Linked DNA regions of Homo sapiens. The protein of the gene in region 1 interacts with the protein of each later gene in a pairwise test. Each region holds a gene or a part of one and is shown in the gene's direction. Other genes may lie near its edges.

The links.
Region 2: the proteins of KRT27 (region 1) and TSKS interact in binary tests that used the Homo sapiens proteins (3 or more experiments, as listed by UniProt).
Region 3: the proteins of KRT27 (region 1) and DUSP26 interact in binary tests that used the Homo sapiens proteins (3 or more experiments, as listed by UniProt).
Region 4: the proteins of KRT27 (region 1) and ZNF669 interact in binary tests that used the Homo sapiens proteins (3 or more experiments, as listed by UniProt).

Annotation. Positions count from the first base shown.
Region 1 is NC_000017.11:40,779,551-40,787,372, reverse strand, and holds the start of KRT27 (keratin, type I cytoskeletal 27), read left to right. Parts: upstream 1-4,822; 5' UTR 4,823-4,879; coding exon 4,880-5,323; intron 5,324-6,102; coding exon 6,103-6,185; intron 6,186-6,916; coding exon 6,917-7,073; intron 7,074-7,511; coding exon 7,512-7,673; intron 7,674-7,745; coding exon 7,746-7,822.
Region 2 is NC_000019.10:49,746,300-49,753,321, reverse strand, and holds part of TSKS (testis-specific serine kinase substrate), read left to right. Parts: intron 1-3,154; exon of another isoform or gene 3,155-3,260; intron 3,261-4,831; exon of another isoform or gene 4,832-4,852; coding exon 4,853-4,948; exon of another isoform or gene 4,949-5,153; coding exon 5,154-5,237; intron 5,238-5,849; coding exon 5,850-5,933; intron 5,934-6,523; coding exon 6,524-6,852; intron 6,853-7,022. UniProt on the Homo sapiens protein: May play a role in testicular physiology, most probably in the process of spermatogenesis or spermatid development.
Region 3 is NC_000008.11:33,597,020-33,604,453, reverse strand, and holds the start of DUSP26 (dual specificity protein phosphatase 26), read left to right. Parts: upstream 1-4,430; 5' UTR 4,431-4,789; intron 4,790-6,694; exon of another isoform or gene 6,695-6,862; 5' UTR 6,863-6,938; coding exon 6,939-7,159; intron 7,160-7,434. UniProt on the Homo sapiens protein: Inactivates MAPK1 and MAPK3 which leads to dephosphorylation of heat shock factor protein 4 and a reduction in its DNA-binding activity. Inhibits MAP kinase p38 by dephosphorylating it and inhibits p38-mediated apoptosis in anaplastic thyroid cancer cells.
Region 4 is NC_000001.11:247,101,354-247,108,176, reverse strand, and holds the start of ZNF669 (zinc finger protein 669), read left to right. Parts: upstream 1-3,820; 5' UTR 3,821-3,977; coding exon 3,978-3,980; coding exon of another isoform or gene 3,981-4,238; intron 4,239-6,063; coding exon 6,064-6,190; intron 6,191-6,385; coding exon 6,386-6,446; intron 6,447-6,823. UniProt on the Homo sapiens protein: May be involved in transcriptional regulation.

The DNA of each region.
Region 1 (7,822 bases):
TACCAAGAAATCATTTTCATCTATCCCCCTGAAGTGCTCACTTTCAGAATCTCCTGTCCTCCTATGCAACATTGGCTGTTTTTTAAGCCTGCTACCCAGCTGTCATGTGGGAACACTCACTCAGTGCGCTCACATTGGAACTCCATTTCCAGGAACCTAAGTTTTCCTTTTTCATGTTTTTCTCTCTAGTGGCTTCCTGACAAAATGTGCAAAAGAGATAATTTTTTTGAGACCTTTCATGTCGGAAAAGATTTTTATTCCACCCTCACTTGTGGTTGTTAAAGTAGAGAATTTTGGTTCTCTACATAAGTCACAATTAGAAAAAAACTTAGAAATGAGGTGACAAACCTTAGGAAAGGATTAGAAATAAAAGGTTGGATATCATTTTGCGTTCACTTTTTTTTTTTTTTTAAGAGACAGCATCTCGCTCTGTCAACCAGGCTGGAGTACAGTGGTGTGATCACAGCTCACTGCAACCTCCGCCTCATGGGTTCGAGCAATTCTCTTGCCTCAGCCTCCCAAATAGCTGGGATTACAGGCACATACCACCATGGCCCAGCTAATTTTTGTATTTTTAGTAGAGACGGGGTTTCACCATGTTGGCCAGGCTGGTCTTGAACTCCTGATCTCAAGTGATCCACCTCCCTCGGCCTCCCAGAGTGCTGGGATTACAGGCGTGAGCCACTGCGCCTGGCCTGGGTTCGTATTTTGAAAGCATTCTTCACTAGAATGATGGCTTTCCTAAAATTGAATATGTGTTGGTTTTGCTCCTGACATTTTAAGTGTTTGTTTGTCGCCCCCGCCCCCAGCCATGGTTCTCTGAAAGATCCTGTGGATGTGCCTCACTGTGGATGTTTTTCATTTATCATTCATGGTTCTTGGTGGTCTCTTTGAATTTAGAAGCTCAGTTGTTTAGTTCTGAGTAGTATTTCAGAAAATATGTTTATAAAATAATTTCTTCATGATTTCTCCCTTCTCTCTTTCCAGAAGACCTACTTGATGTTGTTCTTCTTTGACCAAGTCTCTCATTTTCTTTTTCTTTTTTTTTTTTTTTTTTTTTTTTTTTTTTTTTCTGAGATGGAGTGTTACTCTGTCGCCCAGGCTGGGGTGCAGTGGCGCGATCTCGGCTCACTGCAAGCTCCGCCTCCCGGGTTCACGCCATTCTCCTACCTCAGCCGCTGGAACTACAGGCGCCCGCCACCACCGCCGGCTAATATTTTTGTATTTTTAGTAGAGACAGGGTTTCACCGTGTTAGCCAGGATGGTCTCGATCTCCTGACCTCGTGATCCGCCCACCTCGGCCTCCCAAAGTGCTGGGATTACAGGAGTGAGCCACCGCGCCCGGCCCAAGTCTCTCATTTTCTAATATTTTCTTTTATCTGTAAACAAGTTCTCTGAGAAGGAAATTCAAGGACAGAGACTTCATTCCAGCAAACAGCTAGCAAGCTGGTGAGACACAGCCTTTGGTGTAAAATGAAAATGTGTTCCAGAGAACAAAGGAAGGGAATTTGTCTTTTAGAGAAAGTTCCCACCCAGGTTCCCACTTAGGTCTGCTTATGCAAAATGCAGGATTGAAATTTACTTAGTTCTGGTTGGTTGATGTTTGCTTAGTTAGCTCTTATTAGTCAGGGCATGCAGACTTCTGATTGATCCATGTAGGTTACAGCCTATTGTTTGGTTCAGGTGGCATAAACTGGAAGCTATGAAAGTCCCAAAGTTAAGCAGATGTGCACATTTTCTGGGAACTCAGAGTAAATATGTGACCTGTAGTCAGCAAATGGTTGCTTGGTTTTAATTTGAATTTAGGCCCAGTTAGCTGCTCAGGACTCATCTTAAGAGGCTGGTTCTTTACGCCAGGCACGGTGGCTCACACCTGTAATCCCAGCACTTTGGGAGGCCGAGGCTGGCGGATCTCTTGAGGTCAGGCATTCGAGACCAATCTGGCCAACATGGTGAAACCCCATCTCTGCTAAAAATACAAAAATTAGCCAGGCATGGTGGCATGTGCTTGTAATCCCAGCTACTTGGGAGGCTGAGGCAGGAGAATTACCTGAACCTGGGAGGTGGAGGTTGCAGTGAGCCAAGATCGCGCCAGTGCACTCGAGCCTGGGTGACAGAGCAAGACTCAGTCTCAAAAAAAAAAACAGAGAGAGAGAGAGACTGGCTCTTTCAAGGCTCACATATTTATCTTTTCATCTTTTTGTTCTAATTTTGGGGAGTTTTTTTTTAAATTTATTTTCCAATTCATCTATTGAAGTTTTCTTTTGGGACTTAGTTTTTAATTCTAAGAGGTCTTTTATGTGCTTCCTGTTCAATTTTAATGATGTTCTATCCATGTTTTAAATATACAGTATTTTTGTTACTTCTGAAAGTAATAATTATAGGTAGTTTCTTTTTTAAAGTTTTCTTCAACGTTCTTCATTATCTCTGTTTCCCCTGAGTGCTATTTTTTGTTTGTTTGAGTCTCTGTCTTTCTTGTTGGAGTGTTTTTCAATGTATCGTGATATTTTAAATTATGTTCGTTTTGAGTAAGACCTTAAACATTTGAAAGCTTTGTGTGAAGTGTCTGTGTTTCCTTCCAGAGTGGTTGTACAGTGAGCTCCCTTTTTGTGGAGAACACTCAAACAATTCTATCTGGAGGTATTTTCTCTGAGATTCTTCAGCTTCCTCAGAGAGACCCAACAATTCGGGCTGGCTACATAATTTACAAGGCCCAGTGCAAAATGAAAATGTGAGGTCTCCTGTTGAAAAGTCAGAAAAAAAGTTCAGTTAGAAATATTAAAATAGGTCCAGCGCGGTGGCTCAAGTCTATAATCCCAACACTTTGGGAGACCAAGGTGGGTGGTCTGAGGTCAGGAGTTTGAGACCAGCCTGGCCAACATGGTGAAACCCCGTCTTTACTAAAAATACAAAAATTAGCCGGGCATGGTGGCAGGCACCTGTAATCCCACCTACTTGGGAGGCTGAGGCAGGAGAATCACTTGAACTCGGGAGGCAGAGGTTGCAGTGAGCCGAGATGGCACCACTGCACTCCAGCCTGGGCGACAGAGCGAGACTCCATCTCAAAAAAAAAAAAAAAGAAATAGTAAAATATAAATCTTTTTCTTCTAAAAAGTCTTATTATTTATAACATGTAATGAGGTAACGGGTACACATATATAACAGCATAAACTACAAACAGCAAAGAAATAATGTTTTGGTGTCCTAATTTTATGTAAAACAATAAACCATAATACTTTAATAATGTATTAAATTGATTGACAAATCTTTCTGGCTTTTTTTCCGCAAGCTCATTTATTAAGTCATGAAAATTTATATTTTTGCCAACTTCATTTTCAATCTAGGTAATTGAAAGTGATGTCAATCATTCTTGGCAAATGCAAGATCTCAAATGATTTGTTATAATTTTTAGTCTGAAGAAGAAAACCAGGTGGAAAGAATAACATGAACAAAGGCAAAGAGATGGGAAAGAGGGAAGTAGTAAAACAGAACGGACAAGTCAGTGCGGGAAAATTTACATTAAGACAGTGAGGTGGCTCCTGCCTATAATCCCAGCACTTTGGGAGGCCAAGGTGGGAGGATCTGTCGAGCCCAGGCATTCAAGACCAGCCTGGACAACATGGCAAACCCCAACTCTACAAAAAAATACACAGATTAGCCAGGCATAGTGGCGTGTGCCTGTAGTCCCAGATATTTGGTAGGCTGAGGTGGGAGGATCACTTGAGCCTGGGAGGTTGAGGCTGCAGTGAGCTGTGATCATGTCACTGCACTCTGGCCTGGGTGACAAAACGAGACCCTGTCAAAAAAAAAAAAAAAAGAGAGAGAGTCGTAAATACCAAGCACAAAACTATAAGAAATGACAAAGGTAGGGCACAGGAGCTATAAGTGGAAGAGAAAAGGGGAGCAACATGAGATGTAGAAAATTTCTTAGAAAGCAACTGTCTGAAACTCGATCAGACTCATCAGACTGAGGTTGTCAGTATTGAATGTAACCAAGAGGGTATAGGGGAAAAAATAAAAGAAATGATGATTAGAGATGTGCAGTGATGTCTGAGAGGTTAATTTCAGTAAAATAGTGGGACCACAATTCAGAAATAAGAGGTGAAAAGTACAAGAAGCAATGCAGAAAAGTGCTATGGAAATGGACAGCCAATAGAAGGAATGCAGAAATATGAGCAATCTACAGACAGAAAGTGAATATAGAGACCACAGTCTAGACCCTTCACTTTACAGATGTGGAAACTGAGGCCCGAGGAGGTGACCAATTCCTTTACTTAACCTGGTTAGCAATGGAACTTAGACAGAAAACCAGTACAGATGAAATGGTAATTCAGGAAGGATAAGGATCAAAGGAACACTTTCTGTCTCCAAAGAAGATTCCCTTTAATGCCTCAGTTTTCCTTTAGGACCTCCCCTCCTTCTTCTGATACTATGATACTTCATTGCTGAAGAAAATGCAATGCTGATTTGAGCAAGGGAAAGAGAAATCTGTCTATCATACTTTTTTATTCTTATAGGTATTATGCATTCCTGAAGCCTGGAAGACAGGAAGAGTTACTCATACTAAATTTGAAATGCATCACTATAATAATCCTGATAATACTCCACCCTGTCCAACTCCAGAGATAACAAATAACCCCACAATAACTATCCACCTACAGAAATGGACACAGTATGGTAAAGCCATTCATTAAAAAAAAAAAAAAATCACCCCATTATGGATAATTCACAATGAGCTGGCAAACATCATTTGGCTATGAGCAAAGCTCATCAAGAAACACCCTAATAATGTGTATATAAAGGCAAACCAAGCTGTTTGAGTAGGCCGTTCACCATCAGAGCATCACCGCAGAAACAAAGGCTCCAGCCTCCGGACACCATGTCTGTGCGCTTTTCTTCTACCTCCAGGAGACTTGGCTCTTGCGGGGGCACTGGCTCTGTGAGGCTCTCTAGTGGGGGAGCAGGCTTTGGGGCTGGAAACACATGCGGTGTGCCAGGCATTGGAAGTGGCTTCTCTTGTGCTTTTGGGGGCAGCTCATCTGCAGGAGGCTATGGCGGAGGTCTGGGCGGGGGAAGTGCTTCCTGTGCTGCCTTCACAGGGAATGAGCACGGCCTCCTCTCTGGCAATGAGAAGGTGACCATGCAGAACCTCAACGACCGCTTGGCCTCCTACCTGGAGAATGTTCGAGCCCTAGAGGAGGCCAACGCTGACTTGGAGCAGAAGATCAAGGGGTGGTATGAGAAATTTGGACCTGGTTCTTGCCGTGGCCTTGATCATGATTACAGCAGATATTTCCCAATTATTGACGAACTTAAGAACCAGGTAAGAAACGCCATGGCGTGAGTGTTAGCACTCCTGAGAGTGTTTAGCCACTCACAGATGCACAAATGTATAAGCTATCACAATAACAGGGCTTTGCCCTCAGCTTCTAAATTTTAGGAGTTCATTTTCAATATTAAAAATAATTTCTAATAAATTCTAATATTTGAACATGGCACGTCCATCATGTAGTATTAGGTATATGCTTTTGGTAATATTAAAATATCAAAAGCTGTCCAGTGTCTCCAGTTATATATTTATAGGCTTTCCCATAGAAAGAGCTTTTTTTAATGCTTGGGGTGGGAAATACAAGAGACCATACCCAGCCAGGCACAGTGGTTCAGCCTGTAATCCCAGCACTTTGGGAGGCCAAGGCAGGTGGATCACTTGAGATTAGGGGTTCAAGACCAGCCTGGCCAACATGGTGAAACCCTGTTTCTACTAAAACTACAAAAGTTAGCCGAGCGTGGTGGCACATGCCTGTAATCCCAGCTACTTGGGAGGCTGAGGCAGGAGAATCACTTGAATCTGGGAGGTGGAGGTTGCAGTGAGCCAAGATCGTGCCACTGCACTCCAGCCTGGGCAACAGAGCGAGACTCGGTCTCAAAATAAAAGACAGAGAGAGAGACCATACTTAAATTACCCATCTTCAAAAGAATGGTCTGATTATTAGAGACAGATGCCAGAAATATTACTATAATTTCATGGGTAATTTTATTTCAAGGAACTTTGAAATGCATCTTAAATATTTCCTCAATCTTAACTAACTTTTCATTTGTCAGATAATTTCTGCAACTACCAGTAATGCCCATGTTGTCCTGCAAAATGATAATGCAAGACTAACAGCTGATGACTTCAGACTAAAGTAAGTAGAGCTGAAGATAAATGGGAAAAAAAAGTTGTCTAAGCATTTTTTCTCCTTTATTCTTCTAAGTTATTTGACGTTGTCTCAAGCCTTTGTTCTTGTTTATTCATGTATTTGTTTTAAACAAAATGCCTGTTAGAATGAGTAACTAGCTGAGCAACAAATTTTACTTGGGAAATTTCGGGACTAACAAAAACGAGTGTCAAAGTCATATGAGAAAGAATTTTGGCTATTCCCATTCTCTTGCTTCAATGAAATGTATTTATTGCATGATAGATGACCTAACTGAAATGTGTTTTTTTAATTAATTAATTTATTTATTTATTTATTTATTTTTTGGAGACGGAGTCTCGCTCTGTCGCCCAGGCTGGAGTGCAGTGGCGCAATCTCGGCTCACTGCAAGCTCCGCCTCCTAGGTTCACGCCATTCTCCCGCCTCAGCCTCCCGAGTAGCTGGGACTACAGGCGCCCACCACTGCGCCCGGCTAATTTTTTGTATTTTTTAATAGAGACGGGGTTTCACCGTGATCTCGATCTCCTGACCTCGTGATCCGCCCGCCTCTGCCTCCCAAAGTGCTGGGATTACAGGCGTGAGCCACCGCGCCCGGCCTGAAGTTTTAAGTATTATCTTAGTAGTTTTACCTCAAAGCTTAGTCTGAGTTGTATGATGATCTAAAAAGTGATGTGCCATGTCTAATGACTAATGATGAAACTTCCAAATACTTTTCTAAGGTTTGAAAACGAGCTAGCGCTTCACCAGAGCGTGGAGGCGGACATCAATGGTTTGCGAAGAGTCCTGGATGAGCTGACCTTGTGCAGAACGGACCTGGAGATCCAGCTGGAAACTCTCAGTGAGGAGCTCGCTTACCTCAAGAAGAATCATGAGGAGGTAGAAGCTCCACCCGGCTGGCTCTCACAATCGCCTCCCTACCAAATTTTAAAACTAATTTCAGATGATAAATATAATGTCTTAAATTAACATTCAAGAAGGAACCTGTCAGTTTCTCCATAAGGCTTAGATTGTTTGAGACGCTTCTATTCATTCTTCTCAAAAGAAACAAACCTCCCAAAAAGTTTCTAACCCTATAGATCTTGTCCATCTGACTCCTTTAAAAATATTCAGGCCAGAAGCGGTGGCTCATGCCTATAATCCCAACACTGTAGGAGACCCAGAATGGAGGATCGCTTGAGGCCAGGATTTCGAGGCTGCAGTGAGTCATAATTGCACCACTGCATTTCAGCCTAGGCATCAGAGCGAGACCCTAACTCAAAAAGTGCAATAAATAAAATATTCAGATCCTAATTCCGTTAAACAAATATCTTTCAGGAAATGAAAGCTCTTCAGTGCGCGGCTGGAGGCAACGTGAACGTGGAGATGAACGCGGCCCCCGGGGTAGACCTCACGGTTCTGCTGAACAATATGCGAGCTGAGTACGAAGCCCTCGCAGAGCAGAACCGCAGGGACGCGGAGGCCTGGTTCAACGAAAAGGTAAAACCACGCTTGGGTGCGCCCGGGCGCGGACTCAGCCCCAGCGCCCTAACGCGGCCCCTGCCGTTCCAGAGCGCCTCGCTGCAGCAGCAGATCTCTGACGACGCTGGCGCCACCACCTCAGCCCGGAATGAGCTTATCGAGATGAA
Region 2 (7,022 bases), on another chromosome or scaffold:
CAAAGTGCTGGGATTACAGGCATGAGCCAACACGCCCGGCCTATTTTATTACTATTTTTTAAGGGATTAGGTTTTACTATGTTGCTCAGGCTGGTCTTGAACTTCTGGGCTCAAGCAGTCCTCCCACCTCATCCTCCCAAATTGTTGGAATTACAGGTGTGAGCTACTGCACCTGGCCTGTAGTTGCTTTTTAAAAAACAGACTTTTCTGAACTATTTCTGTAATATCTGTGTTCTTTGTCATGTTTGGCCACTGAAGTCTCTGTTCTCTAATTTTAGTGGTTAGCTAATGATTGGAGAGACATTTCCTTAAACTGGAACAACAACAAAATCTTCTAGTCTTTGCCAAATGGCACTCTGTGTGCCTGATGAGGCACACCTTTAACACTCAGACAATTTACAACTCTACCTTAGCCTTCCCTTCCTGCTTGTGCAGCGTTTCAAGGTTTCAAGGTCAGCCAGAGGTGAAAAGCTTGGGGCCTTCTCAGAACTTTCCCAAGCATGTACACAACCCTACACAGGCCAATGGCTTTCTACATTCCCAGGAATTTGTTGGAACATTTCAAGGCTTCTACAGATATGTCCATCAGATTTTCCTTTTAAGATTTTTTGCTTTTTATTGTTTACCCCAACTGTTATCCATTGCCTTCGGCAGTAGCAACATTAAAACAAGCGTAAAATTTTTTTTTCTTTACAAATGTTCCCTCTCCCACTCCATGTTAGTCCATTCTTGCATTGCTATAAAGGAATACTCAAGGCTGGGTATAAATAAAAGAGGTTTAACTGGCTTATGGTTCACAGGCTATCTGATAAACATGGTGCCAACATCTGCTCAGCTTTTGGTGAGGGCCTCATAGCAAAAGGTGATGGAGCCAGCATATCACCTGGCAAGAGCAGGAGCAAGGAGATGCCACACAAGTTTTTTTTTTTTTTTTTTTTGAGATGGAGTTTTGCTCTGTTGCCCAGGCTGGAGAGCAGTGGCATGATCTCGGTTCACTGCGACCTCCACCTCCCGGGTTCAAGCGATTCTCCTGCCTCAGCCTCCCAAGTAGCTGGGACTACAGGCATGCATCACTATTCCTGGCGAATTTTTGTATTTTCAGTAGAGTCGGGCTTTCGCCATGTTGGCCAGGCTAGTCTTGAATTCCTGACCTCAGGTGATCTGCCCACCTTGGCCTCCCAGAGTGCTGGGATTACAGGTGTGAACCACCACGCTCAGCCTGGGAGTTACATTTTTTTGTTGTTGTTTTTGAGACAGGATCTCAGTGTCATCCAGACTGGAGTGCAGTGGCGCAATCTCGGCTCACTGCAACATCCACCTCCCAGGTTCAAGCGATTCTTCAACCTCAGCCTCCTGAGGAGCTGGGACTACAGGTGCACACCACCACACCTGGCTACTTTTTTTTTTTTTTTTTTTTTTTTTGTAGAGTTGGGGTCTCACCATGTTGTCCAGGCTGCTCTCAAACTCCTGAGCTCAAGTGAACCTCCTGCCTCAGCCTCCCAAAGTGCTGGGATTACAGGTGTGAGCCACTGTGCCTGGCAAGGGATGACATTTTAACATGAGATTTGGAGAGGACAAACATCCAAATCTTTCCTTCAACTATCAGAGATGCTTTCACGGCTTTGCCAGTTCTGAAAAGGAAAGACAAATATTCTGTGTGGGGTCTTCCCAGGCATCACTTAACAATCATAGAATGACTCTTCTTTGGGTTATGAGGCTTTGAATGAGTTCTAGCTTCATTCTGCTTCCTCCCTGTGGGAAATGTGGGCTGTTATTTTCCAGGGTTCCTGCTGAGCTAGGGAGTGGGAGATAGGACTAGGATAAGTTAAAATTCCTCAAGTCTTGCCGTTTTTTATCGAGAGTCACTTTTCTTGAATAAATGCTCTTTGAGTTGCTGCAAGCCTTTGGTTAATTTCCAGAATTGTGAACAAACTGCTTCTTATGGTTTTTGTTAGTTTTTTCATTGTTTTTATGGAGGGGTGGAATTTTTGAATTCCTTTTTTTTTTTTTTTTTTTTTTTGAGATGGAATCTCGTTGTCGCCCAGGCTGGAGTGCAATGGCGCCATCTAGGCTCTCTGCAACCTCCGCCTCCTGGATTCAAGCGATTCTCCTGTGTCAGCCTCCCAAGTAGCTGGGATTACAACTGCCTGCCACCACGCCTGGCTAATTTTTGTATTTTTAGTAGAGACGGGGCTCCACCACGTTGGTCAGGCTGGTCTCGAACTCCTGACCTCAAGTGATCCACCCACCTCGGCCTCCCAAAGTGCTGGGATTACAGGTGTGAGCCACTGTGCCCGGCCTGAATTATTTAATCCACCATTTTGCTGTTGTTAACTGGATACAATATTTCTTATTCCACTTCTTCCCCAGAGCAATCATGCAAGAAATGTGTTGCTGCCTCCATCTCACAAGGGAGGAAACTTATTCTGTCTATCTTTTGTGTATTAGTTCAGCAACCATGAGAGAAACCAAGAGAACTGCTTTTTTGCACATAAAATGCTTGATAAGCTTAGTAGCTCTGCTCTTCAAATGCAGCAGGTTACAGGTGTCTACGTTCTGGTTGCTCAGCCATTTCTAGACAGTTGCTCTCGCCACTGCCTTCCAGCCATTAAGCAGGGGGAACAGGGGAAGAGATCATGCCTGTCTTTTCCACACATCGACCAGTGCCCACTTCCCTTCCATCGGCTGGAACTGGTCATAAACAGCTGGCAGAGGGCTCTCTGGGTCTCTTTTCCTTCAGGTGTGAAATAAGAATGTCAATGATAGGCCGGGCACGGTGGCTTACGCCTGTAATCCCAGCACTTTGGGAGGCCGAGGTGGGTGAATCACGAGGTCAGGAGATCAAGACCATCCTGGCCAACATGGTGAAACCCTGTCTCTACTAAAATACAAAAAATTAGCCTGGTGTGGTGGTGCACGCCCGTAGTCCCAGCTATTCGGGAGGCTGAAGCAGGAGAATGGCTTGAACCTGGGAGTGAGAGGTTGCAGTGAGCCGAGATCATGCCACTGCACTCCAGCCTGACAAAAGAGCAAGACTCTGTCAAAAAAAAAAAAAAAAAGAATGTCAATGATATTGAAGTTATACATTTGACTACTGTAACAAAAAAACACAAAATAACACAGCTTGAATAACACAGAAGATGTAATGTCTCACCCTGAAAGTCTTCACAGGTGGTTGGAATGGAGTATGGTGGCTCCATGTCAAGGATTCAGGCTTCTTCTGTTTCATTGTGTCCTCTATCTGCTGGTCCAAGACAGCCCTCAATTGTGCATTCCAGTGAAATGAGAGAAAAAGGGAAAGTTCTCACTCTTTTCCTATAAGGGATGACTCAGAAATTGACTATAATTCTGCACAGTCTAAGTAATGATGTAGGCTAAAAAAAAAAATAAATAAAAGAGAGAGAAAAAAGGAGGCTGGGCACAGTGGCTCATGCTTGTAAGACCAACACTTACAGGCAGACACAAAAGGATCACTTGAGCCCAGGAGTTTGAGGCCAGCTTGGGTAACGTAGTGAGAACCCATCTATACCAAACATCTTAAAATTTTGCTGGGCATGGTAGCAAGCACCTATACTCTTAGCAACTTGGGAGGCTGAGGCAAGAGGATCATTTCAGCCCAGGAGCTGGTGAGCTATGATAGTACCGCTCCACACCAGCCAGGGTAATAATGAGAGACCCCCCACACACACACACCTCCCCCAAAAATAAATTGACTACATTATTTCCACTCACATTCCATTGGCCAGAACTTAGTCACATGGCCACACCTAGCTGCAAGGAAACCTGGGAAATGTAGTCTCTGGTTGGGCAGTCATGTGCCAGGCTAAGGCTTCTGTAACTGTCCAAGCTGGGAGAATGGATCCTACCACATGCATCCCTCCTGAACCACGGATTGGCAGGAGTCGCACAACACTTTATGTGATATAAAGTAATGATGACCAGAGGCCACATGGTGTCATGGTTTAAAACAAGCGTTCTGAATCTAGATTCTGATGAGATCACCTAATGTGCTGAGTGCTTGGGAAGACAAGGGATATCCCATTTCTGAGACCCATTTGTCTCACTTGTAAAATAGGCCAAATAACCTCAAGAGGCGGAGTTGTGAAGAATAAAAGACAAGACAAGTGCTTGGTGCATAGCAAGTGTTCATATCTGAAAAGTGGCTTCCTTTGTAATTCACCAGTTCCTGGAGAGAAAGGGCATGTGTTTTCAAAGTTTCTCTTTTTAAGCTGTGGACCCCAAGGACTTTTTTTTTTCTTTAGACGGAGACTCGCTCTGTCGCCCAGATTGGAGTACGGTGGTGCAATCTCAGCTCACTGCAGCCCCTGCTTCCCAGGTTCAAGCAATTCTCCTGCCTCAGCCTCCCAAGTAGCTGGGATTAAAGGCACCACCACGCCTAGCTAATTTTTGTATTTTTAGTAGAGTTGGGGTTTCACCATGTTGGCCAAGTTGGTCTTGAACTCCTGACCTCAAGTGATCCACCCACCTCGGCCTCCCAAAGTGCTGGGATTACCAGAGTGAGCCACGGCACCTGGCCCCCAAGGACATTTAGCTCAGTGTTTGGTTGAGTCCATCCTTCTTCCTCCACATGTCTGAGCACCCCACCTCCATCCCCCTTTCCCTCCTGGATCCTATTTTTCTCCCAGCCCACCATGAAGAAAGGTCGTTTATGCCCTGGGTTTGCCGCGCAGGAATGCTAAGAATCAGAGGTATAGCCCTTGGCTCCAAGTCACATAGCCATTCCAGGGCAAAATCAAGGTGTAAACACAGCCTCCCAGTTCTGGAATTCTTCCTGGGCTTGGGGCTTGCCCCCACATACCCACTAACTCACCTGTCTCCCATTCTTCCCCAGAGTGGGGTCAACAGTGGATTGGTCCGCGCCAAAGACTCCATCACCAGCTTGAAGGAAAAGACCAACCGGGTTAACCAGCACGTGCAGTCTCTGCAGGTGTGAGGACCCCCTATATCCAACACCTGCCCTTCCTCCAGGGCCAAGTTCCCTTCTTGGAGCCTGCCTCCAGCAGAATGCACCCATAGCTCAGTTGGGGAGCTTGAGGCTCAGAAAGAAAAGGAACCTTCCCAGGCCCAGATCTTCTTTTCCACAGGCTGTCCCCTCGTGTCCTTGGCTAACCTCTCCTCCTTCCATGCTCCAGAGCGAGTGTTCTGTGCTGAGCGAGAATCTGGAGAGAAGGCGGCAAGAGGCAGAAGAGTTGGAGGGGTACTGCATTCAACTCAAGGTGAGCCAGTGGGACGCAGGAATGGATGGGGAGAGGGGAATGGGAGTAAGAAGAGGGTGGGAGAAAGAGGGGAGGAGGCTGGGTGCAGTGGCTCACATCTGTAATCCCAGCACTTTGGGAGGCCGAGGCAGGCAGATCACCTGAGGTCAGGAGTTTGAGACCAGCCTGGCCAACATGGTGAAACCCCATCTCTACTAAAAATACAAAAATTAGCCAGGTGTGGTGGCGGGCGCCTGTAATCTCAGCTACTTGGGAGGCTGAGGCAGAAGAATTGCTTGAATCCACGAGGTGGAAGTTGCAGTGAGCCAAGATTGCGCCACTGCACTCCAGCCTGGCCGACAGAGCGAGACTCAGTCTCAAAAGAAAAAAAGAAAAGAAAGAGGAGAAATGGAATGGGTGGACCGAAGAGAGGTGGGAGGAAGTGGAGGGGTGCCACTCTGGCACATCTGGCTAAGGAGGAAGCCATCCCCTTAGCCAAGGAAATGAGCTGGTGAGTGTGTCTTGTACTGGGGGGCTAGGAGGCCTGGAGCCTGGATGGAAACAGACAGGCTAAGGGTTGGGAGGCAGAACTGGAATGGGAAGGCAGGGCCCTCGCCCTGGTGTCTGACCCAGGAGAACTGCTGGAAGGTGACCCGGTCTGTGGAAGATGCTGAAATCAAAACCAACGTCTTGAAGCAGAATTCTGCCCTGCTGGAGGTAAGGGCTAGGGGGCAGTCCCAGGATTTGTGGGAGGAGGTCAGATGCACGAGGGACTCAAGATACACTTTTAGGTGGAACTCCCTGCCCCGACACCACCACCACACTGCACCTTCGTGCACATAGTCATCCTTAGAACTCGCTGATAAGAGGGATTCAAATGAGGCTCCAACACCCAGATGGGGGACTCTTGCCCTGCAGTCACATTCAGGTCCCAGAAAGAGAATCGAGCTGGACTTCAGGTGAGAAGGCCCGTCCTGTCCACATGCCCACTCATTTTCCAACAAAATGCTGAGAAAGCTTCAGTTGTTCTTGCCAAGTGGCCGGGACTGGTATTTGACGCCTGGAGGGCTTGGAGGGCCGGGTGGATACCTGGAGGCAGGCTGTGGGAGGTTAGCGGGAATTGGAGTCCAACTGGGCCTCAAATGGTGCCTCCCCTCCCTAATGACAGCCAGTGAGACTTCCAACATACTGTCCCCACAGGCGTTCTACTTCCAATCTCGGGGAGTACTGGAGCGGATTTTGGGGTGGAGGTGGTTGCGGGAGGAAAGCGGCTGGACGCTGTGACCCCGTCCTCCCTTACCACCCAGGAGAAGCTGCGCTACCTCCAGCAGCAGCTGCAGGATGAGACGCCGCGACGGCAGGAGGCCGAGCTGCAGGAGCCGGAGGAGAAGCAGGAGCCGGAGGAGAAGCAGGAGCCGGAGGAGAAGCAGAAGCCGGAGGCTGGCCTCTCCTGGAACAGCCTGGGCCCCGCCGCCACGTCCCAGGGCTGCCCCGGCCCGCCAGGGAGTCCCGACAAACCCTCGCGGCCACACGGCCTGGTCCCCGCAGGCTGGGGAATGGGGCCTCGGGCTGGCGAGGGCCCCTACGTGAGCGAGCAGGAATTGCAGAAGCTGTTCACCGGCATCGAAGAGCTGAGGTGGGCGGGACCTAGGGGCGGAGCCTCGAAAACGAGATCGGCGGGGACTCAGGGGTGGAGCCTCGAGGAGATGCGGTGGGCGGGACCCAAGGGACGGGGGTTCTCAAGTAGCTGAGGTGGGCGGTGACATGGGTGGAGCCTCGGGGACCTGAGGTGGGCGGGAACATGGG
Region 3 (7,434 bases), on another chromosome or scaffold:
AAATTCTACTCATTAGCTCTCTGGCCTCAGAGCGGATTTACCACCAGCACTCTAAACCTGTTTCCTCAACAGTAAAATTGAATTAATTAAATCTATTTATGGGATTGAATTCGCTAATGTATGTAAAGCCCAGCCCATAATTAAATGGTAGCAGTTAGAATTGACCTTTAACATATGCCATATTTTGATGGTCATTCTTGTTTTTTCTTTTTTCCCACATTCTATTTTTGAACACCTCCCTGTCTGTATATTTATTTAATCATTTCTTTCAGAACTATTTTGAAATCTATTTTTGTCTTTTTTTTTTTTTTGAGTCACCCAGGCTGGAGTGCAGTGGCACAATCATGACTCACGGCAGCCTCAAACTCCTGGGCTCCAGCGATCTTCCCACCTCACCCTCCTGAGTAGCTAGGACTACAGGTGCTTGCCACCATGGCCAGCTAATTCTTTATTTTTTGTAGAGTCATGGTCTCACTATGTTCCCTAGGCTGGTCTCCAACTCCTGGCTTCATGAAATCCTCCCACCTCGGTCCGCCAAAGTGTTGGGATTACAGGCATACGAGCTGCAGTTCCTGGCCCTATCTTTATCTTTCCATAGCCTTATTTTTCCATCTCTAATCTCTTCATCCCAGCATAGTGTATCCATTCGTGCTTCTAGTACGGGCAATATGAATTTAAATAAGTGTATAAATAAGTGAAACAAATATAGCTCATAGGTCCTTTGATGGAAGTGTATATGAGCACAAAGAAGGAAACGGACAAATAAGAGTGGATCCAGGCTGGGCACAGTGGCTCATGCCTGTAATCCCAGCACTTTGGGAGGCCGAGGCAGGCAGATCACTTGAGGTCAGGAGTTTGAGACCAGCTTGGCCAAGATGGCGAAATCCTGTCTCTACTAAAAATACAAAATTTAGCCAGGCACGGTGGCACACTCTTATATCCCAGCTACTTGGGAGGCTGATGCAGGAGAACTGCTTGAATCCGAGAGGTGGAGGTTGCAGTGAGCTGAGACTGAGCCACTGCACTCCAGCCTGGGTGACAGAGCAAGACTTCATCTCAAAAAACAAACAAAAAAAAGAGTGGATCCAGGCCGGGCACGGTGGCTCACACCTATAATCCCAGCACTTTGGGAGGCTGAGGCAAGTAGATCATGAGGTCAGGAGCCCGAGACCAACCTGGCCAACTTGGTGAAACCCCGTCTCTACTAAAAATACAAAAAGTTAGCTGGGCATGGTGGTGCATGCCTATAATTCCAGCTACTCAGGAGGATGAGGCAGGAGAATTGCTTGAACCCAGGAGGCAGAGGTTGCAGTGAGCTGAGATCATGCCACTGCACTCCAGCCTGGGCAACAGAGCAAGACTTGGTCTCGAAAAAAAAAAAGAGTGAATCCAAAAAGGCTTTACAGAGGAAACGATTCTCCAGCCTAGTCTTGAAACACTGAAGTTTCAAATAAGATAGCCCTGGGTTTGAACCTGTGTCCTGCCACACACTAGATGTGGATGAGTTAACTAATCTGACCAAATGTCAGTCTCTCTCAGGTATTCAATCAGAATGATGACACCAATTTAATATATGGGTGAGATAAAATGAGCTGATTGGCAGGGCATGGTGGCTCTGGCCTATAATCCCAGCACTTTGGGAGGCTGAGGCGGGCAGACCACCTGAGGTCAGGAGCTTGAGACCAGCCTGGCCAACATGGTGAAACCTAATCTCTACAAAAAATACAAAAATTAGCCAGGTGTGGTGGCATGCACTTGTCATCCCAGCTACTCAGGAGGCGACACACAAGAATTGCTTGAACTGGGGAGGCAGCAGTTGCAGTGAGCCAAGATCACACCACTGCACTCCAGCCTAGGAGACAGAGCAAGACTCTGTCTTAAAAAAAAAAAAAAGAAAAAAAAATCGCCAGGCATTGTGGCATGCACCTGTATAGTCCCAGCTACTTAGGAGGCTGAGGCAAGAGGATCGTTTAAAAGAGGATGGTTTAAGCCCAGGAGGTTGAGGCTGCAGTGAGCTATGATTTTACCACTGCACTCCAGCCTGAGACCCTGCCTCAAAAAAAAATCAAAAAAACAAACAAAAAAACAAAACAAAACAAAACAAAAGAAATCAAGTGGGCTATAGATCGACTCATGAAAATGATCCTCACGGATATGTCAGTCCCCAGGTAATTTCTATAATTACCCATAAACAGCTGTACACATTGTCTGTGGTGTACTTTAAACTGTATTTTCCCCGCTTTTTGAAAAAAGTGTAATGCAGGGTTGAAACAGAGGTCTTGTCAAAGATTGAGATCAGCTTTACCTACAACATCCTCTCAACCTACCAATCTTGAAGACTTTTCACTTAAAATGACATTGATCTTCACCTGAGGTCGGGAGTTCGAGACCAGCTTGGCCAACATGGAGAAACCCTGTCTCTACTAAAAAATACCAAATTAGCCAGGCATGGTGGCACATGCCTGTAATCCCAGCTACTTGAGAGGCTGAGGCAGGAGAATCGCTTGAACCCGGGAGGTGGAGGTTGCGGTGAGCTGACATTGCACCATTGCACTCCAGCCTGGGCAAAAAGAGCAAAACTCCGTCTCAAACAAACAAACAAAAAAAAGATATTGATCTTGTAAGTGCTCTTTCACAATTCCTTTTATGATAATGTTTTAACTAGGTTTGCAAATTAAATCCAAATTTTAATTTGGATGCGCAAATTAAAATCTCAAATTTCTCAGGTCAATTCCTTGGGGTTTTTTGTTGTTTGTTTGATTGTTTATTTTCGCTTTTGTTTGTTTGTTGAGAGGGAGCCTCGCTCTGTCGCTCAGGCTGGAGTGCAGTGGCATGATCTCAGCTCATTACAACCTCCACCTTCCATGTTCAAGTGATTCTCCCACCTCAGCTTCCCAAGTAGCTGGGACTACAGGCGCCTGCCACCACACCCGGCTAATTTTTGTTTTTTAGTAGAGATGGGGTTTCACCATGTTGGCCAGGCTGGTCTCGAACTCCTGACCTCAGGTGATCTGCCCACCCTGGCCTCCCAAAGTGCTGGGATTACAGGTGTGAGCCACCATGCCCTGCCTCTTTGTTTTAAATGACAAGGATTTCATTTCATATTTAAACTGCTGTAACACAAGGGACAAGGAAAAGTGAAAAGAATTTTGTTTCTCTAGAGAAAAAAAAAGGCTAGGCGGTACATTAAACTTGGATGGCAGCCTGTCATGGAACCTGGGGATTGGTCACATTGGCCAGTACTTTCTCTAACCCAGAGATCAAAACCTGATCTGCCACCACTGCTGGGAATGGAGTCAGTCCTGGTTTCAGCTATAGCTGACACCATCAGCTTCAATCTGAGCCAATCTACTTTCTGCCTTTCTTCTAGTAGACAGCGAGAGTTCAAGCCAGCCTAGTTCTCAACAGCATCATCTGCTAACATTTATCATCTCCCCCACTTCCCTCTCACACAATAAGGTAGGCACTGGGGAAGGTAGCACAGTCCCTGCCTTCAAAGTGCTTACAATCTTGGTGCTTACAATAAAAATGCCGATCAAGTGAATATGTCACTAGAAGGCAGCACATGAGAAATTAATATGAAGATGGCCGGACACAGTGGCTCATGCCTGTAATCTGAGCACTTTGAGAGAAGGTGGGTGGATCACCTGAGGTCAGGAGTTCAAGACCAGCCTGGTCAACATGGTGAAACCCCATCTGTACTAAAAAACAAACAAACAAAGAAAAAATATATACAAAAAATTAGCCAGGCATGGAGGCGGGCGCCTGTAATCCCAGCTACTTGGGAAGCTGAGGCAGGAGAATGGCTTGAACCTGGGAGGCGGGTTACAATGAGCCAAGATTGCGCCACTGCACTCCAGCCTGGGCGACAGAGTGGGACTGCATCTCAAAAAAGAAAGAAAGAAATATGAAGATGAATGTTTTGAGAGTCTGGGGAAAGTGAAGTTCACTATGAGCTGAGCTGGTGGAAATGGCTTCCTGAATGAAGGAAATCCATGGTGCCTTCTCCATTTTGTGGGAGGCACTGGTTTAGAGAGTGGTTAAGGACATAAACTGCAAAGCCAGGCTGCATTGTTTGAACAAGCTCAGCTCTGCCAGTAACGAGCTGTGTGACCAGGGCAGAGTACCTAGCCTCTCTGTGCCTAGGTCGCCTCCTCCCTAAAATTAGGACAATAGTAATTATGTCTCCCTCATAGACTTGTGGGGAGTATAAAATGCCTTAAGCTAAATGAAGCACATGGCATATAATGAAGGCTAATGGGGGCTTCGGACCATTGTTCTTTATGACACGGTTTCTTGAGACCGAGGCATGTACAAGCCAGTGCACAGAATCGTGTCTATGTAATTAGTTAATTCTGTCTGGGAGGAGTGTGTGTGTTTAAGACAGTGCCTGGGATGACTTATAATGTAATCTTTAGGCAAAACGCTTTGTAATTGGTGCAGCTCTGAGAACACACGCATGCATTCCAGGCGGTGCTGCTGGGGCTCGGCGGGGCCGTGTCTGGTCTGCAAGGCGCGCGGGCTCGTGGGGGGTTGGCTGGGGAGCCCACGCTGCCTGGCGACTCGGGCCACCGAATGTGAGACCGAGTCCCTTTATGTCACCAGCGCACACGCTGATTTGAACCCTGCTTCGACGTGTGTGTCATGGCTTAAAAATAGCTGCTAATCTGTCAACCTGTCTTGGGCAGAAACAGCGGCGGCGACAGCAGCAGGAGCGTCATGGCCGTGGCGCTGTCTGCGCCGGCGATCCGCCTTTCGGACTGAGGCCCAGCGCAGCGCTTGCAAAGAGGTAGAGGGGCTGCGGCGGGCCTTCGCCTTTTCAGCTGGCTCTCCACGCTGGGGAGAGGCGCCCAGCTAGGGGCGACGGGGGAGGGAGGGGACCGGGAAGCGGGCACCCGAGCCCAGCGAGCCAGCCTCTCTCTCCCGGGCGCCCTCCCTCCGCGCGCGGGGCCCGGCTGCCAGGCTGGCGAGGACTGGGGCGACAGCCATGGACCTGTTACAAAGGCGACCGCAGGCGGAGGGAGGGAGCGGCGGGCCAGGGCCCCTGGAGCCGACGGATGGGATTGGAGAATGCCCAGGGCTGTATCCCTGGACAGAAAGGGGCTTCTGCATCCCCCGGGAAAAACAGCCCCACGGAGATCCTTCTTAGACCTGGGCTCCTTCACGCTTCCCCCATCCCATTCATCATCTCGTAGACAGCAGACTCTCTAAGAGGAAAGGTTGTATTGCAATACAGTAATGGGGTCTTTAGGCCTGGGTGCAAAGGTAGAAGAAGATGATGGTGATAGTGATGGTGGTGATGGTGGTAGTGATGATGGTGATGGTGGTGGTGATGATGGCTGTAGTGCTATATTTCTGTGCTCCTTCCGGACCCAGCCATTGAAAACTCTCTCTCCCTAAACTCCCTAACATCCAATCTTCCCTCACCAATCCTGGTCCTAAAACCCCTGCTTCTAATGCCTTGTAAGTGCTTGGTTTCTCTTGGCACTGGAGCAAGGGAGAGCTGGGCCCTGTCTAGGGGTGTGAGATGGGGACAGAGCATGGGCAGGGACAAAGATGGCCTCTCACTGCTGGTCATAGAGTTGAAGTCCCCCTGGCAGGAGGCCAGGAAGGGAGTGGAAGGGGATTCTGCAGGCTCCAGGACCTCCTGCTTTCAAACAGGCAGGACCACAGGTGTGAGAGGATGGGGAGGGAGGGGGAAGGGGCCTTGCCATTGTTGCCTCCCTGCCTGAAGGTCCCAGGGCAAGCCTCAAACGCTGGTCCTTCCCAGCTCTGCAGCTCAACAGGTAATCTGAGACACACCTGCTAAGCCCCTCGTTATTGACCTCGTGTTTTGTAGGGTCACTTGACTCCAACAGCCATACGGTTGGTAATTCTAAGCCTCTGAGCCCCTGGACCTGGCAGGATCCCTCATTTTTCCCTTTCCTTCCTGCTTTCTAGGCCCCCACCACCCACCCCTGTCCCCCCTCCCCTCAAGACACACACAGACAAAACACTCCAACCCTGCGTCAATTCCCCCACCATCCACCTCTGTCACCCTCCCCTCAAGACACACACAGACAAAACACTCCAACCCTGCTTAGATTCAGAAATTCTCACATTAGAGCTGAGATCTGATCAGTAATTTCCTAATGCTGATCCAAGGAGGGTGGTTTGCCTGTTGTGCACATAGATTGGTGCCTTCTTCCATAAGCTCATGCATTCAGCAAGTATTTATTTTTTGCAAACTTACTCTTCCTCTTTATTGCTATTCTCCACTCACCCCATCCCACCCCCACCACACCCTTCCCATAGCAGGTTTATCTCTGAGGCAGTGGCAGGTCACGAAGGGGTTAAAGTCTAACTCTGGCACAGAGATGGCAGGCCTGACATGTGTCATGGCCTCAGCTGCTGTTGTCTCCCTGCTAATTCTCTTTGGATGGGTCTAAAGGTACCCCCAACCCCATCCCAGCTCCCTAGGCTCTCTGCCGATAGCCCCAGGCAGATGAGACTCAGATTCCAGCTGGCAAGATCCCCAGCAGTGGGGACAACCACCCAAGTGCCGTGTGTGTGTGTGTGTGTGTGTGTGTGTATGCGTGCTGGCAGTGGGGGTGGGGTGATGAAGCTGAAACCTAGCAGCTGGGCAGCTCCCTCTCCCCGTAAACAAGGACATGTGACTCTCCCACCTCGTTTCGTGGCAGAGCCAAAGAGCTGAGCAAAAGGAGCTGCTGCAGCTTGAAGAAAAAGCCACCCCTGAAGGCTCCTGCCAGAGCCAGGCTTACCTTCTCTCCCTCGAGAATCTTCTCCCGAAGGACCAGCCCAGGGAAGGGAAGCAGCTGCTCTGGACTCACTCAAGTGTGTCTCACACCCCTTCCTCTTCCAGCAGCAGCTACCTGGCAACTGAACCCATCATCACCACAGCCACTCCTGCAGCTGCCACGGTTTCTGCCACCTCTAAGATGTGCCCTGGTAACTGGCTTTGGGCTTCTATGACTTTTATGGCCCGCTTCTCCCGGAGTAGCTCAAGGTCTCCTGTTCGAACTCGAGGGACCCTGGAGGAGATGCCAACCGTTCAACATCCTTTCCTCAATGTCTTCGAGTTGGAGCGGCTCCTCTACACAGGCAAGACAGCCTGTAACCATGCCGACGAGGTCTGGCCAGGCCTCTATCTCGGAGACCAGTATGTATCGGGCAGACTGGGCCCACGGTAGAGCGTGTGTGTGTTTGTGTGTGTAAGAAAGGAGAAGGGTGGCAGACAGGTATGCAGTGGTGTCATTGGTTCCTGGTTGAAGATTGAGGGGATAGGGCACATGGGCCAAGAGTAGAGGCTGCAGGTTTGGGAGAGTTTGGCCAGGATTATTGAAATGCCCAACTCTGGCCAGTCACAGTGTCTCTTGCCTGTGATCCCAGCAGTTTGAAAGGCTGAGGCAGGAGTATCTAGAGTACAGGAGTTCT
Region 4 (6,823 bases), on another chromosome or scaffold:
AGCCTTGCCTGCTGAATTTGTGCTTCCAAATCCTCCTATTCTTTTTTCTGAGCTTTCTCCTAACTTAACATACGGCAAAAGCAACAGTTGAGCTATTCTGTCACGTGGATTAGCACTCCAGGGAACAGTGGAGGAGATAACAATTTGAATTTCTCCGTAGCAATCAGAGTCCACTACTCCTGTATGTACTTGAATTCCCTTTAAGTTGGACCTTCCCAGTATAAGTCCCACCGTGCCATTTGGCAGTGGGCCATAAACTCCTTTTGGGACCTTCCTGGACTGCGGCTGGCTTCCCAAAGTGGGGAAGAGGGCTGGTTGAAACCTGCCTCAATCCATTTGGGAACACTCCATTTGGAGTCAGGGATGTCCCGTCCTGAATTGGGAATGCCCCGTTTTGAATTGGGGCCCGGTCCTGAGTTTTGCCTTTTTTGCCTCTTTGTACACTCTCTTTTTGTATGTCCTATCTGTCCACAATTATAGCAAGACCTGGGGAACACTCATGTGTTTTTTGTTACCCTTAGTCCAGCCATTGCCTGAGCAAGGAAGCTGGCCTTATATAAGTGCTCCCCAATGCCATCACAGGCTTTAATGTATTCACTTAAAGCTTTTTCCTCATTTAGATCTGCCTTTCCTTTAATAGGTCTAATTGCTGCCTGACATTCTGTATTAGCATTTTCATCAGCAAGCAGCTGAACGATCACTTTCCTGGCATGAAAATCTGAAATAGCCTTTTGAGCCGCATCTTACAAACGGGCAATAAAATCTGGATAAGGCTCCCTTGGACCCTGTCGAACTGAGTTAAAACACGGATAAGTTGTACCAGGGTTGTGAATTTTTTCCCAGGCTCTTAGGCATATAGTTCTGACCTGATCAACAACCTCATCACCCATTACCATTCTGTTGATTTAGAGTACCCCATGTGATTCCAAGCAATTGATCAGATGTGATATTAACGGGACGTTGGACTTGAGCATTTCTGCATGCCCGATTTGTTGCTTCATCTGTCCACCAGGTTTTAAATTGGAGAAATTCAGAGGGGGACGGAGTGGATTGGGCTAGTGCCTCCCAATCCATAGGTATTAAACGCCTGTTATAAGCCACAGATTGTAACAAGGAATGAACATAAGGAGAATTTGGCCCATATTGTCCAATTGCTTGCTTTAAGTATTTTAATATTTTAAAAGGAAGTGGCTGCCAGCATGCTTGAGCATGTTCTCTGGGCTCCTCAACTGGCGAATTAATTACCAGAAACTGCAAAGCATCCAAATCCCCCATTTCTCATGCCTGGCGAATGGATGACGGGATTGTCCCCGTGCCATAATTTGTATTTGGACCGGCTCGCAGCATTCCTCTACCACAATTAACAGGTGGTAGAGGATCATTCCCTGATCGTAATTGGCTGTTAGGCGAGCCTGAAGCTTCCCTTCGCCATAGTTATTGGTGGGGCCTGCAACAATGGGAGCGGCAAGCCGCGTCTCAGGCTCCAGTTCCAAAAATTTGTAAGGCTGAGCCGGGGGTGGCCATTCCAGACCTTCCCCTAAAGGCGAAGTAGGTGGCACTGTTTCTTTTATAAGTTTTTGGAGATTAGCATATATACCTTCCCGTTTCTCGGCCTTTTTAAAACTAGACTGTGATGGTTGATTTTGCTGATCATTAGACTCCTGATTATTAAAGTTTTCTATGTCATCCTGAAGCTCCTCCTCAGTGTGGAAGGGCTCCAGTGCTGTTTTAATTGCAGGCCACGCAGACCAAGCAAGAAGGGAATATCGTGGCCCTCTTGTTGTGCTCGTTTTAAGTCTGATCCGACCTTGTCCCAGTCTTTTACATTCATGGTTCCATATTCCGGGAACCAAAGAGAATACTTTTTTACCAGATAGAACAAAGATGGGAGATTTTGGGTACTCACAATTACCCCTCCGCGGCGCAGTAACTGCCGGACAAGGCTTCAGTAATTAGCAAACTTACTCTCAGCCTGACCCATAGTTTCCGGAGGTTACCCTGGAATTTTCCGAGCGCCCTACTTACCTGTAGAGCTTGAAGTGAAAACGTACTCGGGCGTCCTTTGTCAGTCATCCTCCACTTTCCACTCTCTGGCATTCCTTCACTGGATTATTTGTAGAGATTACCGGGAGCCCGGCGTTGGGCACCAGAGACCAGCCTGGGCAACTGAGGGAGACCCCATTTCTACGAAAAAAAAAAAAAAAAAATTAGGCAGGCGTGGTGTCCAGTGCCTGTAATCCCAGCTACTCCATGAGAGATTGGACAAAACCTGGGACCAGAGACTGATTTTCTTCTAAAATGCTTTCTCCAAAATATTTTTAAAAGAAAAGGGGGAAATTGGAAAGGAAAATGTTTTGAGCCCCCCAGATCACTAAGCTAAAGGGGAAAGTCAATCTGGGAACTGCTTAGGGCAAACCTGCCTCCCATTCTATTCAGAGTCATCCCCTGCTCACTGAGATGAATGCATATCTTATTGCCTCCTTTGGAAAGGCTAATCAGAAACTCAAAAGAATGCAACCGTTTGTCTCTCACCTACCTGTGACCTGGAAGCCCCCTCCTGGCTTCGAGTTGACCCGCTTTTGCTTCAGGTTGTCCCGGATCAAACCAGTGTTCATCTTACATATGTTGATTGATGTCTCCTGTTTCCCTAAAATGTATAAAGCTGTCAGATACAGTCAGTTTCTCTTCCAAGGTTTGGCATGTTAACTTTCTTGTTTTTTTGTTTTCGAACTCAACTTTCTTGTTCTCCATGCCTCCTTGCCCTTAGTTACTGTAAACAACCTTCCGTCAGTTCTAATCAATAACTCACATCTGTTCCCTTGGTTACCTGCTCTGCACCCATTTCTCCCTTGGAAACCGCAAGTCCCACCATTGTAACTCACATCCCCCTTCCCCCTTCCTTATTTGGGAAAATATTCACAAATAGCCAACCGGGTCAGTTTAGATCGTGCGGTCTGACCCCAGCCCATGCCAGAGGTAGGGACTGCGTTAGGAATAAAAACCCCTGCTTTCCTCTGTTCAGTGTGCTCTTGCGATCGTGATTGATGCGAGCAGCACGCTTCTGCAGAAGTAAATTGCGTTGCTGAGAAAACTTTCGCTTGAGTGCTGGTTTCACTTTGCGGCACCGAGCATTTCTCTCCAACAAAACCAAGCTGTGCTCTGACCACCTTGGGCACATGTCATCAAGGACATCCTGAGGCTGTGTCATGCATATGCATCCCCAACCTTGGCAAAATAAACGTTCTAAATACTCTTACCCCAAATGCTCAGGGAGACTGATTTGAATAATCATAAAACTCCAAGCCTGCACTCCAGCCTGGGAGACAGAGCAAGATTCTGTTTCAAAAAAATAAAATAAAATAAAAAAACTCCGGTCTCCCGCACAGAGGACACTGCGTGAATTACTCTTTCTCTATTGCTATTCCCCTGTCTTGAGAAATCGGCTCTGTCTAGGTAGCGGGCAAGGTGAACTCCCTGGGCAGTTACAGAACTGTCATTATATTGCTTCCAATTTTATATATATATATATATATAAAAGGCACAAATAGCTATAACTTGTATACAGGTTAAATGTGAATGTCCTTCTTGCATGGTCGGATCCCAGCGCAGGAAGGACGCACCGCCTACAAACCGCTAGGCCAAAAGCGGTCATTCTGACCTCATCCAGCCTCACGTGAGATCGCAATCTCCTGTCACTCAGGGCCTGAGGGGCGGGGCCTGAAGCCCCATCCAATCAGGGGCGCTGGGGTGGGGACCGTTCAATCAGGCGCGCCGCCGGAAAGGAGAGGGCGGCTTCCGGGATCTGCCTGGCGGTTGCTTTGTCTCTCCTTCGCCGGAGCCGGCTCTTCCTGTTAGTCTCCGCTGCTAGTTCTTGGCTCTGGGAGGCCCAGGTGGCTCTGCAGCAGCCTCTGCCACCCTGTGACCTGCGAGTATTGGGACATCCCTAGCTGACGCCAGGACACCCGGGAAGCCGAGGAATGGTGAGTGGACTGCGCCTGGCTTCCCGAAGTGGAGAAGAGGGCTGGTTGAAACCTGCTGTGGCGCGACTCGGGCCTCCACGCCATCGGCTCCGGAACCTGCGGACCGAGTCGCCGTGGCGTAGCCGGGGCTCAGTCCTCTTCTGTTCAGGGCCGGGCCGGGCGGGGCGGGCAGCGGAACCCCTGCATCCTGTCTGTACCTGCGGGCGCCACTTCCGCCGGCCGGAGCCCTGTCGGGAACCCCTCGCCTCCCCTATCCAGGTAGTGTGGTGACCACGGGAGGGTGATGCGGGAGAGCCCCGACTCGGTGTCTCGGTGTGCGGGGTTCCAGCATGGGAGGAGCTGTGGTTCATGGGGCTTCCAGTCCCACCTTTCTTCCCCTAAAATTAAGCCGAGGCTTTGTTAAAACGTTAAACCGTGTGTTTGAGCAAACGGCGATTCATAAACCAGGTACCGCAGTCATGGTTTGTGGTTTGGGGTCCACAGAAGGGGCGTAAATGAGAGGCTTTGATAAGGTTAATGAGGAAGCAAACCATATTCTTTTTTTTTTTTTTTTTTTTTTTTTTTGGAGACGGAATCTCGCCCTGTCGCCAGGCTGGAGTGCAATGATGCAGTCTCACTCATTGCAACCTCTGACTCCCGGGTTCAAGCGATTCTCCTGCCTCAGCCTCCCGAGTAGTTGGGATTACAGGCGCCCGCCACCACGCCCAGCTAATTTTTGTATTTTTGGTAGAGACAGGGTTTCGCCATGTTGGCTAGGTTGGTCTCGAACTCCTGACCTTAAGTGATCCGCCCGTCTCGGCCTCCTAAAGCGCTGAGATTACAGGCGTGAGCCACCGCGCTCGGCCAAAATATTTTTCTGTTTACAAACATTTTACATGAGAGGAAAGCGGAGAATAAACCATCTGACACTCTACTGTAAAAAAATCTTTGTGCCTCTCTTCATCTTTCCTAAGTGTGCATATTACCAAAATGTCTTTAGGTTGATGTCCCCCTGTGAAAACTTTACAGGGTGTTGTGTCCTCAGCCCTTGGTCTGCTTGCTCATCTCTCTGCTAATACTGTGCTGTCCTGAATATTTTTGGTTGAAAATCTTAAAAGTATGTTAGGCAAGACATAACTCTTTTTTTAGATGACTGAAAATCATTAGACATTTGTCATTTTTACTAGGTATGAAAAACTAGTTTTTCTTGCCTAAAAAAGCCTGATTTGGGAATTTATGTGATTTCACAGGAATAGCATCTGGAAGTGGTGACATTAATGTCATTTTAAAAAACATGTGCCATATTTCCTCTTATTCCATTCTGCCTTGACATTGTGCAATAGAAATTTAAAAATTGTATTAGTAAATTGTTAAATATCAATTATTGGTTTTATTTACTACTCAATTAAATTTAATAAGCCTATTCTCTCTTGGTGTAATCACATGGAATGGGCTCAACTCCCCAATTAACAAGTGACAGCACATATAAAATATTGTCTACCAGGGAAACTCATTAAACACTTAGTGTTCAGACTGTGTTTTGGTGTCTGGTTCCCTAAGCACCACTGCAGTGACACAAAATAATAGACCTTTAGCAGAAAAAGTTTTGGCAACTATATTGCATAAACCATTTAGATGCAGTGAGTCATTCTTATTACTTAGGTTGGTGGAATCCCTTTCAAAATGTAAGTTACTAATACAAACAAAGATTGAACTTTGTGAGCAGGCATTTTTAAGAATAAGTAGTCTTAGGACTGATATTATTAACTCACTTATGCACATCAGGTAGGACTTTATTATGGCAGATACTAGAAATGTACGAAGTGAAATTAAGAGGTAACCTAGCAGCACATCTTACTCCCTGGATTCTCTAATGAGATGGGTATTTCCACTTTGCTGTTGCCTTTTTGAATAGTTCAATTCTAGCATTAGTACTGCTGTGTGGGAGGGAGTATGTGTGAACAGAGTAAGAGTTGTGACAATCAAGTCATAGAATAAATGCTTGGAAATTATCAAATCATGTAAACAGCTTATGAATTGAGTATAGATTCCCAGTGCTGTCAGTCTCACCCATCCTTCTATCCACATGTGTGGAATGTTCTAGGACTCGGTGGCTTTTGAGGATGTGGCTGTGAACTTTACCCAGGAGGAATGGGCTTTGCTAGATTCTTCTCAGAAGAATCTCTACAGAGAAGTGATGCAGGAAACCTGCAGGAACCTGGCTTCTGTAGGTAAGAATGACAACACATTTCAGTTAATTACAGAAGTCTTTCCCTATCATCAGTGCTATTTATGATTTGGAATGTGGCAAGGGAATGATTTGGTGAATAAATCAGGCATGGGCACTGTGTACAGTGAACATTAAATCTAGTAATGTGTCTACAGTTTGTAATAATTCATGATAATTTTATGGGTCTGCATTTTAGGAAGCCAATGGAAAGACCAGAATATTGAAGATCACTTCGAAAAACCTGGGAAAGATATAAGGTAATTTGCACTGAGCAGAGGAAATAAAGTCCTCTGAAGGAATCTTAGCATGTCATGAACTTAAAAACAAGCAATCAAAACAAATAAGAGTCACTTGAAATTTATTTATTTTTAGAAAAATTTCACCCAAAATGTAACGTACTTCAATGTAGCAGTCAGTGTTTGCAAAAGAGTTTACTTGAAAATAGTACTACAAAACTGTGTATATGAATATTACTATTTTGGTCATAGCCATGCAGGTGGTAGCTGTGTTTTCAGTAGTAACCCATTTACTTTGAAATAATTCAGTCATGGCAAAAAAAAAAATGCATTTTCCCTGATATTGGTAGCAGTGTAAGTCCAAGACCTATTAATAAGTAGAAAGTTATTAATAAACC